2 separate regions of the Homo sapiens genome follow, and region 1 is linked to region 2. Evidence: fine-mapped expression QTL. Tissue or cell type: tibial nerve. Region 2 holds a variant in brackets; the other region holds the start of a gene. All regions are shown on one strand. Distances are from middle to middle.

Region 1 (8,670 bases), 880 kb after region 2:
AGGTATTACAAGATCAAAATGCAGAGATGTACACACTCACTCAGACGCGCACACAGAAACACTGTTGGCTACGTAGATGATATGACTGTCATTCAGGTGTAAATTAAATCCATAGTTTGTCCTTTTCCTACATTCCACTAAATATAAATTAACTAGACTCCCCAAGCAATTGTATTTTTGGAAGGAAATAAGGATGTTTTCAAGAACCTAGCTACACTTTAACCTAAACATTGAACTTCAGATTGAGGCTCAGTTTACACATCCAAGTGCTGATGCTTTTAGATAATGCAGTTATTGAGTATGTTGGTTTGTTGGGCAATTTCACTATAACACATAGAGGATACTTCTGGAAGTAAACAGATTTTACTTAACGGAAAACCCAAGGGCTAAAGATAGAAAAGGGGAGAAGGGAGGGAGGCAGAGTAGGAGCGATCAGCTAAGATGACTGTTGGGGCTTTTAGTATAGACTGTGGAATTACACAAATTCCAGATTACATACTCAGCTTTGCAGTTTATTAAACCTGTTTTGGGACTTGCTAAAAAAAAATATTCAGACAGGTGAACTCTATCACTGACTCCTTTCACTACATATTCCATTTCCCTAGTGCTCTGGAAATCTTACAGGCTGTCATGTATTGACCCTAGGGGGGGAGGGGGCAGCACCCTCTTCAACCCTGTGTCCTTTTCCTCATCCAAAAAGTTCTGCAAATAAACACTGCTCTTAAAACATAACACACAAATTTGCAGGAGCACTATAAGACACTGATTCTCATTGAAAATCCTGAAAATCAAGACTCTGACCCCTAGAGAGAACTCCCCACTTTATAGCGAAATCTCAGAATTCCATGGAACATTTTCAGTCACTCCCAAGCGACTGTCCTCCAAGCCTGAACCCCTCCCTAAATTCCTAATTCTTGGGGGATTACTCACTCATTGTTAGAACTTTTGGTTAGTTGTAAGTGCTACCCAAATAGGGAGGGGAATCACATTTACCATGGAATTTCTTGCTCATTTCTTTCTTGATTTGTTTCACAGTCATTACTTATCATAGGCAAATTCCAGAAGCCACTTCTGGGACAGACTTTCCCAAAACACCCCAGGGGATAGGAGAGGTGACTGTTCAACGGTGCCAGCTTCCAGTCATTGTTGCTTAGAATTCCTCACCTCCTACCAAAATGCCTAAAACAACAACCAAGCCAATAAGCTTACAGAGATTGATGGCTTCCAAAGCCAGACCCGATGCTTTACAACTGTGGTGGAAAAAAACATACAGGCTTGCCTGAACACCACCAGGGCCGAGTGACTAATTTGTTTTATTACATTGTTTTTCCCTTCTGTTTTCTCTCTGCCTCAGGAAAGTTGTGTTTTTGCTCGTCGACTCAAGGCCTCGAAGACTTTCCCCACTTTTTTCTATGGCACACAGAGTTCTGCACGTGAACTTCTTGCTGGTTAACTGGATTGCATCAAAATGATTTCTCTGTGAGGTACTATTGCTACCAGGATATCAATTACTATCCTAATGTGGACATTTGCTCTGATATGCATAACAATTGAAAATAGAAATAAGCCTCTCAGGGCAATCATTTCAATTCACAGCAAAATCTCTGCTTCCTTCATCTAAATAAATAGAGTGAGCCTTCAGAACCCACCTGTGCCAGCCTGGCCCTGGGTGAGGAGACACACCAGTTCATTTGCAAAAAGAACCGTGCGCAGAGCCCTTAGTGCATAAAAATCGATCCTGGGGCCCTGTCACGTGGTCTGTCTTGCTTTAAAGGAGGCATAACTTTGGGCAAGCCCTGGAATATGAACTGAGGTTGAAACCTGCCAAGAAAGAAAGAGGACTGTGAAGTCCTGGACAAGGCAATGGTAAGTGCTCTCAGACACCGACAGCTCCCAGACTGGCATGCATTGCATAGGACATCCTGTTGAATGCAATCCTATCCACTCAGCAGTCCTAGGAAGGCAGCAGATTATTTTACAATGGAGAACTTGGAAGCTCAAAGAGGTTAAACAACTTGCCCGGGTTGGTACCACTAGCAGATGGCAGGAAGGATCTGTCTGAATCCTTTCTGTCTGAGGCATGCTCCAAACCGCCTTGCTAAATTGGGGTATATGTACACACATACAGCCTTGGGGTCTCTAGGGTACAGGACATCTGGAAAACTGGTTCACAGCCAGGCTTGGGATCCATGGCAAGACTCAAGGCTGTAGGGACCCCAAGATAATCAACCAGAAAAGCCTGGTAGAAAAGGAGCTATAACTGGGCAGTCCTTAATCGGGACTGTATATCCAAGAAAGAAGTCAGGAGCTTGGGAGCGGGCTCAGCAGCCGGGCACTTGAATCTCCCCTGGTACTATCACCCATCACTGCATTTCTGAGATGTTAGCCCATTTCCAAAGTCTAAACCCAACATTGCTCTAACAGTGGTCTCCCTTAGAAGTCTGCACCAGTCTCCCCATCCCAGACAGTCCCTACCTGGGAACCCAACTCCCTTCCCCTGCCTTTCACCCGCAAACTCTCACCTGAGCCTCTACCCCGGCCAGGAACTCAACACTCATTCCTAGCACCCTGAGGCACTCCCTGTCTCTTTCCCTCCTTACTCTGCCCGGCCCTGCCCTGCCCTGGCTCTTATCCACCCACTTGCAGGCTGCCAGCTCACTCCAAGTCCCAACGCCTGCCAGAGAGGCGATGGGGGACTGGATCGGGGTGCTCTCCGAAACCACAGGCCCCTGAGCAGCGCAGGGCGTGCCCCCCGCAGCGGCCAGCACCCCAGGCCTGGCCTCGGAGCGCTGCTTTCCTGCACTCAAACTTCCCGAAATCTCTGAGGTGCAGAGGTGACTGCAGGCGGACCGCATCTCCCTCGCCCCCTCTCCTGGTTGGCGTGCCCTTCCCTCGCGCCGTGGCGCTCTGAGGGTTAACAAGCAGCTGCAGCCCGGGTGGGCAAGGCTTGAACTTTTCTCTGCGCTCCGCTCCCGCTCAGGGAAGGCAGCAGAGGCGGCAGCCCGGGATCTGGCCGGAGCTCCAGCTGGCTGGACAATAGGGGTGCGGGGGGCTGGGGCCTGCGCCCTGGCGGGGGACACGCTCCGGCCCTTTCGGGCCCGGGGTCTGGGAGCAAAAGGACCCCGATGCGGGTGCGGCCGGCGCCGGCGCCTTTGAGCGACAGCAGCAGCCGGGCTGAGGCTCTCTGCTGCCCCGAGGCGCCTTCCAGCGGGCAGCCGGGCTGTACCAGGGGGCCCGGGCGCCCTGGGAAGTCGGTGGTGCCTGCTCGGCCTCTCCAGCCCCGCATCCCGCAATCCGGACCCGAGCAGCGCTTCGGCCGCTGGGCGTTGGGCTGGGGAAAACCGCGGCTCGTTGGAGTCGCCTCTAACTGAGTCTTTCTCCAATGCACCGAGCCTCCGGAGGAGGGAACCAAAGTTACCCCACTTGATGTGGGCGAGAATGTCGCCCCTGCTAGCAAAAAAGGACTGGGAGCTCTCTCCTCCTCCCGTTAACGAACGTACACACACACACACACACACACACACACACACACACACACACACGCACGCCAGAGTGGGAGCCTGTGTGTGGGGGGTGCCTAGGATCTCTGGGCTCGGAATGACCTCCCTACCGAGCCCCGATCTGTCTTCGCCGCCGCGACCGGAGGCCCCGACCCCCCGAAAGCCCCCTCACCCTGCCCGTGCCGGGCGATCCGAATGCAGAAACGGGGCGCAGAGCGCGCCCGGCAGCCCCTCTTCCCTACCTGGGACAGGAGAACGCACAGAACGAGCGGAGTTCTCGGCTGCATTTTGTCCGACTAGAAGCGCCCGGCGGCGTTTTCATTCATGCACGCGGCTGCACTGAGCATATTTTCCGTGGGAGCCAGGCTTTGAGGAGAGGCTCTGCCTCGCCAGCCAGCCAACTTCCCAAATAGATCAGCAGCAGCATCACGAAAGCATTGGGTAGAGGCTGATGACCAGGACCAATGGCTTTACAAGACGGATTCCTTCCTAACGCTCCCTCGTTTTGCATGGCAGATACGGGGTGAGCACCTCGCGAGGAGCGAGCCCCGCGGAGGTGGCATCCCATTTGCTTCTTTGGACTGTTGGGGCTCAGCCTCACAAATCACGCTGGGCAATGCCAGCTGATTCCACTTTTCCAGAGAATGGAATTGCACGGGGGACTGGCGGCCACTTCCAGCCTAGTGCAAAAAGATTCTCTTTATTAAAATGTTAATAAGATCCACTCTATTTCCAATAAATCAGATAAAATGGCCCCAGCAGTTCCAGCCCTTTCTACGCCTGGCAAGGCTTGGCAGTGGATTTTTTTTTTCTTTTTTCCTTTTTTCCCCCCACTGTGGCCCAAGTCATGATGGTGTTTGGTGCTTCCCTGCCATCTCACAAATCACAAAGATGACAGATCAATTCGAGCTTGCAGAAAAAATTCCATTAAGGGGCAATAGATTTTATTAACTGCTCAGGTGAGAGTCTGACTAGCCACCTACTCCTCAAATGTGCATCTGGCACCAAAGCTGGGATCTGGATCGGAAGGAACTTCTTTTTGTATATGGATGTTACCTTTCAGAAGCTCTGAACTACCTCCAGGTACTCAGAACAGCAGTAGTCACTGCTTAAGGGATTTTATAAATGGGGGGCTTTGGGACTGAGGGTAAGAGGGACATCTAGGTCTGCCTTCCCTAATAGGAATCTAAGAAAATGCAGGGAAGACCTTACTGTATCATTTCCATGCAGCCTTCCCTTAGAAAGAATTTAAGGTGTTTTACAATAAAGGACATTTGTGCAATAGAATTTATGAACCAAAATAGAAAATCTGGGCCAGAAGGAAAAGTTCAGCAAACTGAAATGACAAGCCCAAATTCTAATGTATTTGCTCTGATTTGGATAAGAGCTTCCTGATAGCCAAAGCAATAAAAGAAACATAAGTTACATAGTTTTGTTGTAGAAACATGCATACAATGTCTTTCAGCATTATTTTCCATGGGCTAAATACCGGAATAAATGCATTATGTAACACGTAACATAGCAGGACACTGAGCAATGGACCATGCCAAGATCCAGTGGATGGGGATGTATTTCTAGCATCTGGCACAGGGCCTGGAACATGGAGACAGCAATTAGTGTGTGTTAAAGAAATAGATGGCTAGACTCAATCAAGATGCAGCAGAAGGCAGGGAGGGGCAAGGAGTCTGGAGCCACATTGTCTAGGCACAGCCCCCGGATCTGCCACTTACTTGTAAATTACTCAAACTCTCTGCCTCCATTTGTTCACAGATAAAATGAAAACACAAATTCTACTGAACTCACAAGGTTGTGGTGAGGATTAAGTGATGACATAACCACTGAATAAATATAAAGTGATGTGCCTTTTAAGATTCCTTCATTGGCTGCTGTTTGGTCAGAAGGTCACCTCCTGTGGTCCCAAGGTCATTGATAAAGATGCAGTGATGTCTGAAGCTTGGCTGCTGTAGCCAGCACTGGCCCAACAGATGGCAATGTTGGCAAAACAACCCCCAGATGAAACTGGGAAAGGTGAATCTTGCTGCTTCACCCACTCATTTCCTTGCCTAAATAGGGTCATCTGTCCCTGAGCCTCTGATCAATACGGTCCGACAGATGACGTCACAGATCATGACACTTTGGAATCCATGTGTGTGGAGATCTAGCCTCACGTTTCCCACAGGTGGGAGTAAACCAGAGAACTTTGGAGTCAAACAGGCTTCAAATCAAGGCATCCTGAAATATCCGGACTTTTCTCCACTCCAGGGAAGGTGCCATCTTGTAATTCAGGGCCAGCTAAACTGAGTCCATGGCTTAGCAACACAAAGATAGGGAAAGAGAGCAGAGGACAGCTTGGGAGGTGATAAACCACAGTGAGGGACTAGACTGCAGAAGATGAGGATCTAGCTAGGTTTCCATCTGCAGCAGCTCAGTTAAGGGAAGCAGTCCCTCAGAAGAGGGAGTTTTCAAGGCTGTGTTCTAAGGACAGTTCGGTGCTGTCAGTTTTACAGTTCTGCTGGCCTTCTGTGGTCTCCCCATTCCCTTGTCCTTAGTGCTGATGACCAAATATTTCCAATTTTTCCCCTTTTGGGATCATGGTGGGATTGCATTTACTGGCCCCCTTGTTGCTGGGGTGGGGCAGTGTGTGTACATCTAGCCAATGAGCCATGTGCAAAAGTGCCATGTCCCTTCAAGCCTGGAGCATTTAATTGCCAGTGTCAGGCAGATTGGTTTCCCTGGACGTGCTTTTTGCCCCAGTATTTCCCCAAGGAGGGGAAAAATCTTGGGTGAGACAGCTTGGTTTGGCCAAGGGCAATTCTCTGGTTTGTCCTCAAATTCATCAACTATATATAAAAGGAGGCCATTGGCAGTACGACCAGTAATGAGAGTCTGTGATGCCCAGGCCATAGAAGACCTCATGAGTCTGATGCTACCAATTAAGATGGATGTCGTTTGGTGAAAATCCTGCTGACTCTGTCCCCTGCAAAGTCCTGCTCAGGCATTTGCAAAGGTCCCAGGCTTTTTTCCTGGGCTGTTCTGCTGGCAGGCAGAGTGGCTCCAGTAAACCTTGCCTGATTCCAGGTGGGTGTGCCCAAAGGGCCAGTCTTCACTCCTTCCTCACCTCAATCCCCACAGATTGGCTTTTAAGGAATGAGAGGAGTTGTCTTCTGGAGTCTCCCTAGGCATTGAGGCTCACTTCTGTAATCCCACGAGGTTCAAAACATGCCAAGCCTACTAAGGTGGAAAAAGATTTGTCAGAAAGATTAGACCTGAACTGAGATCTTCAGATTCCACATATATGAGGCAAGTCAGTTTGGTACCCTAAGACTCAGTATGTCATCAATAAAATGCGAATGATAACATGATAACACTCCCAGGACTGTTGTAAATATTGATGTTTCTCTTCCCCTCTATCATCTATTCCTCTCGACTTTCAGAGAACGTGCACTTCAACAAAGAACAAGAGATCATATTTTGTCCAACAAAGACAGAAGAAAAATTATTTCATTCCAATGATAAAAGGCTTCTGAAGAAGAAATCCATTCTTCGTTTTGCTTTGCTTTTTATTCAGTTCCCTAATAAGGGTTTTTTGGCTGATTAATTGATTGATGTGGCAAATAAATACTAAAGTTGAGCCCTACGTATCCCCACTCCACCGCCTACCCCGTATCATCCCCCGACCAAGCCCCAGCTGCTGTAGCATCTGTGGGCTCCTCAAGAAGCTGTGTCTGCCTTTAGACACATTCGAGGTTCACACCCCTTTTCCAGACGCATCAGCCTAGCTTTGGCACGGAGGGAATAATCCAACAGCCAGTAGCTGCCTCCTGTGGGTGCCAAGGGTTGAGTTTGTTTCCTGTCCTTGGCTGATGTTGATGAAGGCATTCCACAGTGGGTGGATGTGGCTGTGTGAGTGCGTGCATGTTCCTGTGTGTATGCATATAAGCACATGGGTGTGTGTGTGCTGGGGGGAGGGAGTGACTGGCATATAGTCCGGCAGAGATAATGTATTCAAATTTTGTTATGCTTTCAATGTGCTGCTATGATGAGGCATTTGTATAGAGCGGGATTAATCCAGCTAGGAGCCCTTATGCAACAACCCAGTGATTAGGCGTGTCTGGGGACCTGGATAACAGAGACCCACTTGGACAGCATGCAGGGAAGCCTGTATCACACAGCACTGCAACATACCTTCATGCTAATGTCTCACTCCCTACAATGGGAACACCTGCTAAAAACACCCAAGATTAGGACAATGCACCGTCCTACAACAAGTCTCCCTGGCTACCAGAATGCTGACCAAAAGTAGCATTCCTGATCACTCTTAAGCCACAAACACTGCTTCGTGTTTCTTCCTGGCCCCCTATGTTACTTGACCTTCTGCTACGCATTGTTGCTTGCGTTGTCATCTCAATCCTTCACTCCAACCTGCATCTGTGCCCTTTGCCCCTTGGCCTTGGGTTTAGCCATGCAACTTCTGTGACAAATGAAATGAAGCAGAAGGGATGGGGTACCAGTTATAAGCTCAGGTCCCAAGAGACCCTCTGTGTTTTAGCTTACTCTCGCAAAAGCTCCTACTGATGCCTTGAAAAGAGCATTTGTGGGCTATCCCGCCGGTCCTAGGAGGAAATATGAGCCCCTCATGGGCCCACAGATGCTTGCCCAGCCAAATTTGCCCAGCTCAGCTGATCAGCAGGTATGTGACCTGAAAATAAACAATTGCTTTATATTTTGAGGTAATTTGTTTTGTAGCAATAATTAATGAGTGATTACATCTGTTGGCTTGTTGTCTGTCTCTTCCTCTGGAATGTAAGCTCATTTCTGTATTTTTACTGCTGCGTGCTCAGAACAGGGTCTGGAGCACGGCAGGTGCTTAGAAGACTTGGTTTGAGCGGGTGAATTAATTGGCTTTTGTGTTGAAAAATGTGTGATGCTGAGAGGCCCATCACATGTAGCTCCCTACGATGCAAGGTCTTCTCACAATAGTCCAGACCAGGACTAGACACAGTGAAGAACATGTGTGAGCCTGTGGGTGTCTGAAGATCTTTTGTGGAGGACACACAGGGTGTGATATCCTTCTGAATTTCCTCGATGTAGGCAGAGCCCACACATCTAAGAATAAGACAAAAAATACTCCTTCATCTTTTTAGGTTCTGCCCTAATACAGTGTCCTCTG
Region 2 (8,670 bases):
AAAAAAGTAAAGCTGCACAGTTGCAGCAGCCACCATATGGCCCACAAAGCCTAAAATACTTACTATCTGGCCCTTTACAGAGAGTAAAATCTGCAGATCAGTGCTCAAAAATCTTTTGCTCAAGTTATCCCATACCTGGGCATCTTCCTGATCCCCTTGAGACAAAGTTACTTCCCTGGCCATGGCATGTTCCACATATCATCCTGCTGTAAAGAGTCATTTCCATGGCCGCCTCCCTGCTATACTTTGTGAATACCATCAAGGTGGGCATCAGCTCTTACATCTTTGAAACTCTGAGGTAAGAAAGGGTGACCCTAAGTATGGGAAGCCCCTGGGGGCTGGGGAAGAAGGGGGTTGAGTAGAGGGATTATGGAAACTTGGCTTCAAATAGAGGAATGAGAAGGGAGGGCAGAGGGTTTCTGTGATGTGTGCATGCTATGCAGACCCCACAGGCACTCATGCACACAGAGCTGTGATGGCATGTACACACCTATGCATAAATTCTCAACTCCAGGTACCCATTAGCAGCATGAGAAAGTACAAACAGATCAGCTGGGTCATTACACCTCAGCTCTACACGGTACCTTGTGCCTGTTACAAGATATCTAAAATATAGAAGACAAGAGAGAATAATGGATCCAGCTAGCTCTCTGCCTATTTGAGTGCAAATAGCTTATTCAGGATACAATCTTAAGAAGCACAAGTGAGGGAGAAAGAGAAGTGAGACAGAATATGTAAAAGAGTCAATACACAGGTGGCAATGGGCAGATTATCTCTGTGGACAACTGGTGTTCAAACTCACTGGGGTCATCTGGGAGACTCGGGAGAACATATCTCGAAGTTGTCCTATTCCAAGGGTCAAGAAGGGATGGTAATCTACCAACTCTTGCCACTCAAAGGCTGATGGCTGTTCCCTGGGCAGTAAGACTGAGCACACTCCCATGGTCAGAGGAAAGTCCAGGCAGGCAGCTGCAGGGATTAACAGGTTGAAAGCCTGTATGGGAGTGGTGGGTTCCTGGGGATCTGGGTGAGCCATCAACAGTCACTGCTCTATGATCCAACCCAAGCATCGAAGGGCGGATGCACGGACTACACTACAGAAGCAGCCATGGGGCAACGCAAAACTTCTCTCTAATTTTTTACCCCATCTTCTCACTGCTATCCTCCAGAACCCCAGTAAGTGAGTTATTGAACCGGGGACAGGAGAAGTAAACTGCCGACCTGATTTGGCAGACTCCACATTTATTAAATGTATTCCCTTCCCTTCCCTTTCCTCCCCTCTCCTCCCCTCCCCTCGCCTCCCCTCCCCTCCCCTTCCCTTTCCTTCCTCCCTTCCTTCCTTTTCCTTCCTTCTTTCCTTCCTTCCTTCCTTCCTTCCTTCCTTCCTTCCTTCCTTCTTCTCTTTCTCTCTTTCTTTCTTTCGACCGAATGTTGCTCTTGTTGCCCAAGCTGGAGTGCAGTGGCGCGATCTCGGCTCACTGCACCCTCTGCCTCCCGGTTTCAAGCGACTCTCCTGCTTCAGCCTCCTGAGTAGCTGGAATTACAGGCGCCCGCCACCACGGACTGCTAATTTTTGTATCTTTAGTAGAGACGGGTTTTACTATGTTGGCCAGGCTGGCATCGAACTCCTGAGCCCATGATCTGCCTGCCTCGGCCTTCCAGAGTGCTGGGATTACAAGCATGAGCCACCGCACCTGCCCTCATAAATTTTTTACTAAGCAAAACATTTTTAAACTAAGTGATAAGACAATTTTTATTTAAAACCAAGGATGTCTGAGCATGTGCCATTAGATGAGATCAGGCAATTCAGGGTGCTATGCCCACAGGAAGGCTAGCATTAGATATTAACAGTCTAGCTCAGTTAAGCATTCCAGTCACCTTTGGAAACGTTTCCTGGGCTCTTTAATTTGTTTCCAGAGTAGCAACCAATTATCATTATTGTACTGTTAAGAATGGGACAAAGACTGTGTACCATTAATACTGCTTCTAAACTACTTTAAAGAACTTAGTCTTTCTAGCCAAATATGCTTTGAAAATGTCACTGGCTTTAAATGTATTTGGTTTAAATTTCCCCAGGTTCTAACACACACTCTTCATTCATTCAGCCATCTTCTGAGCCTCTATTAATAACAATACCTCTTTGAAGAATGCATACATTACAAACTTTCTCAAGAAGCCTAGAATCGACAGAGGAGAGAGACTGTAATAAAAATATTGCTTTTCCTTGTGACAGTGGCATTAATAGAATGCTAAACAATCTGTGTGAGAAAATGAAGAAAGAGGGATTGAGTCATGCAAAGAAGACCAGAAAAAGTCCACAGAGGAGGGGCTGCTCACACCAGGTTTGGGGGGTAACAGAGAAATGAGCAGCAATTTTAGCTGGTGAAACAGACTATGTGTATTAGTTATCTAATGCTGAATAAAATTACCCCAAACTTAGTGCTTTAAAGCAACTAAAAACATTTATGATTGCACACAGTGTTTGTGGCTTGGAGATATGGAAGCTGCTCAGCTGTGTAGTTCAGTCAGGATGTTGGTGAGGCTACAGTTATCTAAAAGCTTGATGGGGGCTAGAAGGTCTACTTCCAAGGTGGCTCACACATACGGCTAAAGAATTGATGCTGGCTATTAGTAGGTGGCCTCAGTTCCTTGCCATGTGGATTTCTCCATGAAGCTACTTGAGCTTCCCTACAACACGGCATTTGGCTTTGCCTGTAGCAAGAAAGGACAAGAATAAACAAGGCTCAGAATTCACACAAAGTCATTTCTGCCATGTCCTATTTGGCTACACAAGTCATTCCTATTCGATGTGGGAGGGGACCACGCAGGAGCATGGGTACCATGAGGTGAGAATCACTGGGAGCCCTCCTGGGGGCTGGCTACCATAATATGCAAAAGTCAGAAGTGCATTATCTTTGAGGGAAGAGAAAATGCTGATGCCATTGGAACGAGGGTGAGTTAGGAACGTAGTGGTACAATATAAAGCCAGAAAGCATGGGTCAGACTGTAGTTTGGATCAAGGAGGTTACATAAAGGAAGGCACTGCATCTGTCAGTCTCTCCTCCCTTTCATCTGTTGGGATTTGAGTGCAGGAGTCAGGAGCATTCATAGCAGAACTGGATTCCCACCAATAAGTCCCTTTCCCAGGAACTGCCCCATTCCCCAACCCCCAGAGAGATCAGTGGCTCCAAATCTTTGAGAGGATACAGAGGAGCTTGTCTATACTCTTCACTCTGACCAGCCTTTTCCTTCAGGCCTTAATGAAGACAGCATCTTCTTTCCTCCCCTTGGCCTTTTTATTCCTGCATGGCCTGATGGTCTCCCTTGGACTGGAACAACTTCAAATCCTGTTTGCCATGAGTGGAACAGCAAACCATTCTGACAGCCTCTTTGGTCTTACACTGACCTGGGTGTGAATTCCACTTCTACCCATTCCCTGAATGTGTGAACTTGGAAAGTAAATACTCCCTGTGACTCTCAGCTTCTCCCGGGGTAAGGTGGGAATACCACCACCACGTTATGGAATGTTGAAGGAAGGAACATGCTGATGCGTTTGCAATGTTGGCAATGGAGGCTGCTTTTAATAATCACATCATATCTGCAGCTCACAATCTGCTTCCTGGATCTCTTTAAACTGGGTTAGGCATTTTGGGAGGCCAAGGCAGGTGGATCACCTGAGGTCAGGAGTTCAAGACCAGCCTAACCAACATGGAGAAACACCGTCTCTACTAAAAATAAAAAATTAGCCGGGCGTGGAGGCGCATGCCTGTAATCCCAGCTACTCCGGAGGCTGAGGCAGGAGAATCGCTTGAACCTGGGAGGTGGAGATTGTGGCGAGCCGAGATTCCACCATTGCACTCCAGCCTGGGCAACAAGAGCAAAAACTCCTTCTCAAAAAAAAAAAAAAAAAAAAAAAAAAAAGGATTAATCACAAACCTCATCAGCTTTACAAGAACTGTGCTCCTTTGGCAGAGTTTACTAAATGTGTTCCCTTTGGTGCTCACATGTAGGCTGTTTCCCATGAATTCATTATCAGGCTGGCTGGGAGGGTCCTGGGGGAGGAATCTGCATGGATTTCCACTGGCCTTTCAAGATCAAGAGCAAAGCACTTCTGAGTCCTAGTGTTGTCCAGCGTACACTAAGGTGAGGATAGATTGAATTATCCTTCGTTGTAGGCTAACGCCCGCTAGGCATTATGACAGTTAGAACTGAGAAACAATTCTTGTTTCTTCTGGGTACAATGGGAGGGGAAGCCTGGGGATCTGGAGGCTAGATTTTAACTTAATGTGGAAATAAGAGCACCAAATTCA[A/C]GTCCAAATCTAGAATTTGAGGATGGGTAGGATCACATTTCCTATGCACATCCTTTGTATGAGAGTGACAGGCAAAGACAGAGGTGGTGCCACAGCTGGCTGACTATGATGAGGCATCAATGCTCTCAGACCCCTCCCATCCTCTCTTTTCACTCCTCTTAACCATTTTTACAGAGAAAGGAGATTTAAAGCAGGAAATTTTGATGCTTTATTTGAGGCAGACTTTAAAAAATAATTACGTTGACATGTCACCATGAGACTTACCTGGCAGGACACTAATTACTTGCTCGTATGAATATATTTTCTACTTTAAAAAACACAACTATAAACAAATGTTATTTTTTAAAAAAATTCCTTGAAGCCACTACTCTTGTCACCAAGCAGACACCAGAAAATCTCATTATCTGCCCTAACACCAGTTGCTTACAGGGCCTGAGCCACTCTGTCTGGATGTCTAGTGTTGAGGATGAGGCTGTTATCTCCCGCTACCTGCCATGACCCCATATCAGCCCCACTGGCACTGAGAATGGGCACAGCACCCGGAGTGGGTCCCATCTTGCTAGAATCCCAAAACGTGGAGTCCAGGTCATAAAGATCTGGCCTGCTTTCCACCCTCACAGCAGAAGAAGTTGTCAGCAAAGCCTCAGATGCCTCCCATTGCCCGTCCCAGTGGTAGCGACACTGGACAGGCTGAGTGTCTTCTGGTGGCATTAACCCTTTGTGCTCTCTTTCATAGGAAAGTTGCTGTGTTCTGAGCTGAAGAAATACCTCCAAAATGCTTCATGCACAGCAGATCTTCAGAAGAGAAGTAAGGGTGAGGTTGGAACCTCTGTCTTTCCAGAATCAGGCTTCTTTGTGGAGGGGCTGGAGGTTGTGAACACTCTTCTCTAGTGCCCTGTGCTTCACCAAGGGTGCAGCAACCTGAGGATTAAAATCCAGCCTGTTCCACTCACCAAGCCTTACCCTTGGCATGGGCTATGTCCATTCAGAGGAACGGGCATCTTTTATTTCCTTTTTTTAAATTTTACCTTAACTTCTGGGATACATATGCAGACTGTGCAGGTTTGTTACATAGGTATACATGTGCCATGGTGGTTTGCTGCACCCATCAACCCATATTTTAGGTTTTAAGCCCCACATGCATTGGGCATCTGTCCTAATGCTGTCCCTTCCCTTGCCCCCCACCCCCCAACTAAAACACCAAAAGCAATTGCAACAAAAGCCAAAATTGACTATGGGGATCTAATTAAACTAAAGAGCTTCTGCACAGCAAAAGAAACTATCATCAGAATGAACAGGCAACCTATAGAATGGGAGAAAATTTTTGCAATCTACCCATCTGGCAAAGGTCTTATATCTAGAATTTACAAGGAACTTAAACAAATTTACAAGAAAAAAAACAAACAACCCCATTAAAAAGCAGGCGAAGGATATGAACAGAAACTTCTCAAGACACTTCTGTGGCCAAAAAACATTTGGAAAAAAGCTCATCGTCACTGGTCAAGCATCTTTTCCTATTGCACAAAAGTGGCTTGTGGGCTAGGAGCCTCCCTGCCCCTTCCCTTTTCCTCCACTCCACCCCAGGAAAAGGAATGGAGGTTTCTGATTGCTGAGTGGCATCTCCCTAGCTATGTCTCCTTTCCTCCTTTCCCTCTCCTGTTTCTCTTCCCCTTCCGGCCTCCTTCTCACTGCCCCTCCTCCTGGGCAGAGGCATCCTGAGATGGGCTCCACCCAGGTAGATGTGGCGTGTTGTTATCCCACCCCATCCGAATCTCTCTAATTTAGGTAAAAGTATTAGCAAATTTATTTGGGTACAAACTCAAGGCTTTCCTAATCAGCTTCATAGGTAATGAAACCTACGGTTTGGTCTCCAGTTGTCCTGTATTTCTTAGGAGTTCTAATTTGGGAGGGGAAAAAAGGGTACAATTCACCACTTCTTAGTTTCTCAACACTACTTGAATCTACGTGAGCGATTCAAGGCCTCACTTTATACCCCTTGCTTACCTGATGATGTGAACATTCTTACCAATGTGTATTGAGCACCTACAAGGTACAGATCTAGGAGGCAAGGAGCCCCTCTCTCTGTGTAGCCTTTGTAAGGCTGGATTTATGTAACTGAAGCATAACCAACGAGCTCCGCTGTGCCCTTGTGAGGGCCAATGGAAGGCCACCCCCTGAGAGGAACACTTTCATGCACTTTTACCAACTCAGGCAGGCTGGTTGGGTGGGATGGCAGCCACCCAGCCTTCTAGGGAGACCCCACTGTCGATGGAGATGCCTGAGAAAGATCTGGTCAAGTGGACTGTGCCTCTGTTAGAACACTCCTGTGTCATCTCAAGTCTCACCATTATTTTATTATTGGTAACACCAGCTACTATTGGTCAAGAGCTCTTCATGGCCAATGCTAACGGCCATGAAGCTAATGTATTTCATGCCCAAGAGTTAATGTACTTCACCTGTCATCTCTTTCAAGCCCCCAAAACTAATGTATTTCACACATCGTCTCTTTCAAGGTCAAAAGCTACTGTATTTAACACGTCATCTCTTTCAAGCCCACAAACCATATAAAAAAGGTTACATCCATTTCCTATTGCTGCTGTAACAAACTGCCATGTCCTTAGTGACTTAACCATGTGACTTTATTCTCTTACACTTCAGGACAGGAGTCCAAAGTGGGTCTCAGTGGGCTAAAATCAAGGTGTGGGCAGAGCTGCAATCCTTCTGAATTTCTCTCCTTGCCTTTTTTTTTCCTTTTTTGTTTTAGATGCCAGAAGCTCTGTCCACAGCCCTTGCATGGTGGGCCCTTGCTCCATCTTCAAAGCCAGCACTAGAGCATCTTTAAATCTCCAACCCAGCCATTCCCACCTCCCCCTTATTAAGACCCTGTGATTATATCAGGCCCATCTGGATAATTCAGAATAATCTTCCAATCTCAATATATTTGACTTAATCACTTCTACAAAGTCCCATTTGCCCTGTAAGGTAACATATTTACAAGTTCTGGGAATTAGGATGAGGACTTCTTTGAAGGGGAGGAGCCATTATTCTGTCTTCCACACAGGCCGTGCTATGAGTTCCATTTTACAGCCAAAGAAACCTAGGCTCAGGTAGGTGAGGTGACTTGCCCAAGGCCACACAAGTAATAAGATGCAGAGCTCAGATTCACAGATTCACATTTGTGAATTCCTAAGCCCAAGCTCTGAGCCACTGTACCACATGGGCTTTCTAATGGAAGAGCTGAGGGAAACTCAATCAAGCTCCCCAAATATGTGAAAAGTCCAGGAGCAATGAATACAGAAATCCCTGAAATGAGTCTGATAAAAGATAAAGTTGTCCTTGAGACATCTGTCAGATTTTTTCCATCAATATGTCCCGTGCTTTTCTTTAATAGCCCAAGGGAGTGGATAGAGCAGCGGCTATGAGGTCAAATCCAATGCCCTGGCTCTCCAGTGGGTGACTCAGGAAAGGCAGGTCAGCCCTTGGGAACTCCATAACCCTCCTAGTAGAATGGATGTGGCAATTTCAGCCTTACAGAGCTCCTGTGAGTGTTATGGACCTAATGTAATGCCTGGATGAAAAAACGCCGTAATTGTTTACATGGTGGCTGTCCAATGCTGAGCACAACATAAACTGTCTCACACCTATTAGATATTCTAACATGCAGAGGAAATAAGAATGGAGAATCTCTTGACTCTTGCTTATTCCAGAATGCTAGAGCCCAAGGAGACAGAAAACCTGAATTTAGGACTCTGAGAGTCTTTCATGGAGAAAAATCAGCCCACACAACAATTTAGAAGACACGGGAGAGAAAATACCTAAAAGAATTTAATTTTGGTTCCCAGTTTTAAGGCCCATAAGCAGAAATGCCATTCACTGAATTTCAATGGTCATTTCTATAGCTGTTCTTCACAAAGGTAGAAATAAATTCATTTCCCATGGCTGTCTTAGAAACATATAACCACAAAATGTCTATTAAGTTGCCTGTTGGAATTTGTGGAAGCAAAGATAAACAGCTGGTCAGTGTGTCTGTGATGATCACGTTTAGCCAGGAAAGCCATTGCTATGTCTCTGTTACTTAAAGAAATAAGAATGCTTATTATTTCAAGTGGGAATGTTTTGACAAGACTTACCTTAATACACCTTTGAAAACATTTGGAATGCTTCCCCTGCAATCTTAAAAACATTAACGGAGGCCATGATTCCTGGCACAACTCCCTCTGTTTGGTCAACAAATAAACTGGCTCATATAGAAACCAGTCTCTAGGCCGGTTGTGGTGGCTTATGCCTGCAATCCCAATACTTTGGGAGGCCGAGGCGGGTGGATCGCCTGAGGTCAGGAGTTTGAGACCAGCCTGGCCAA

The links.
Region 1: CDH13 starts here. The variant in region 2 is fine-mapped to the expression of CDH13 in tibial nerve (GTEx, PIP 0.98).

The regions. Positions count from the first base shown.
Region 1 is chr16:82,622,210-82,630,879 of GRCh38, reverse strand. It overlaps CDH13 (cadherin 13), which reads right to left and starts at 3,911. Exons shown (of 14, transcript NM_001257.5): 1 at 3,743-3,911. The coding sequence starts at 3,787. RefSeq lists an enhancer at 627-1,826.
Region 2 is chr16:83,500,783-83,509,452 of GRCh38, reverse strand. The region is part of intron 7 of CDH13 (cadherin 13); the gene reads right to left. It overlaps MIR3182 (microRNA 3182), which reads right to left and starts at 1,107; the gene lies at 1,045-1,107. The variant A/C (reference allele first, on the strand shown) is at 4,311.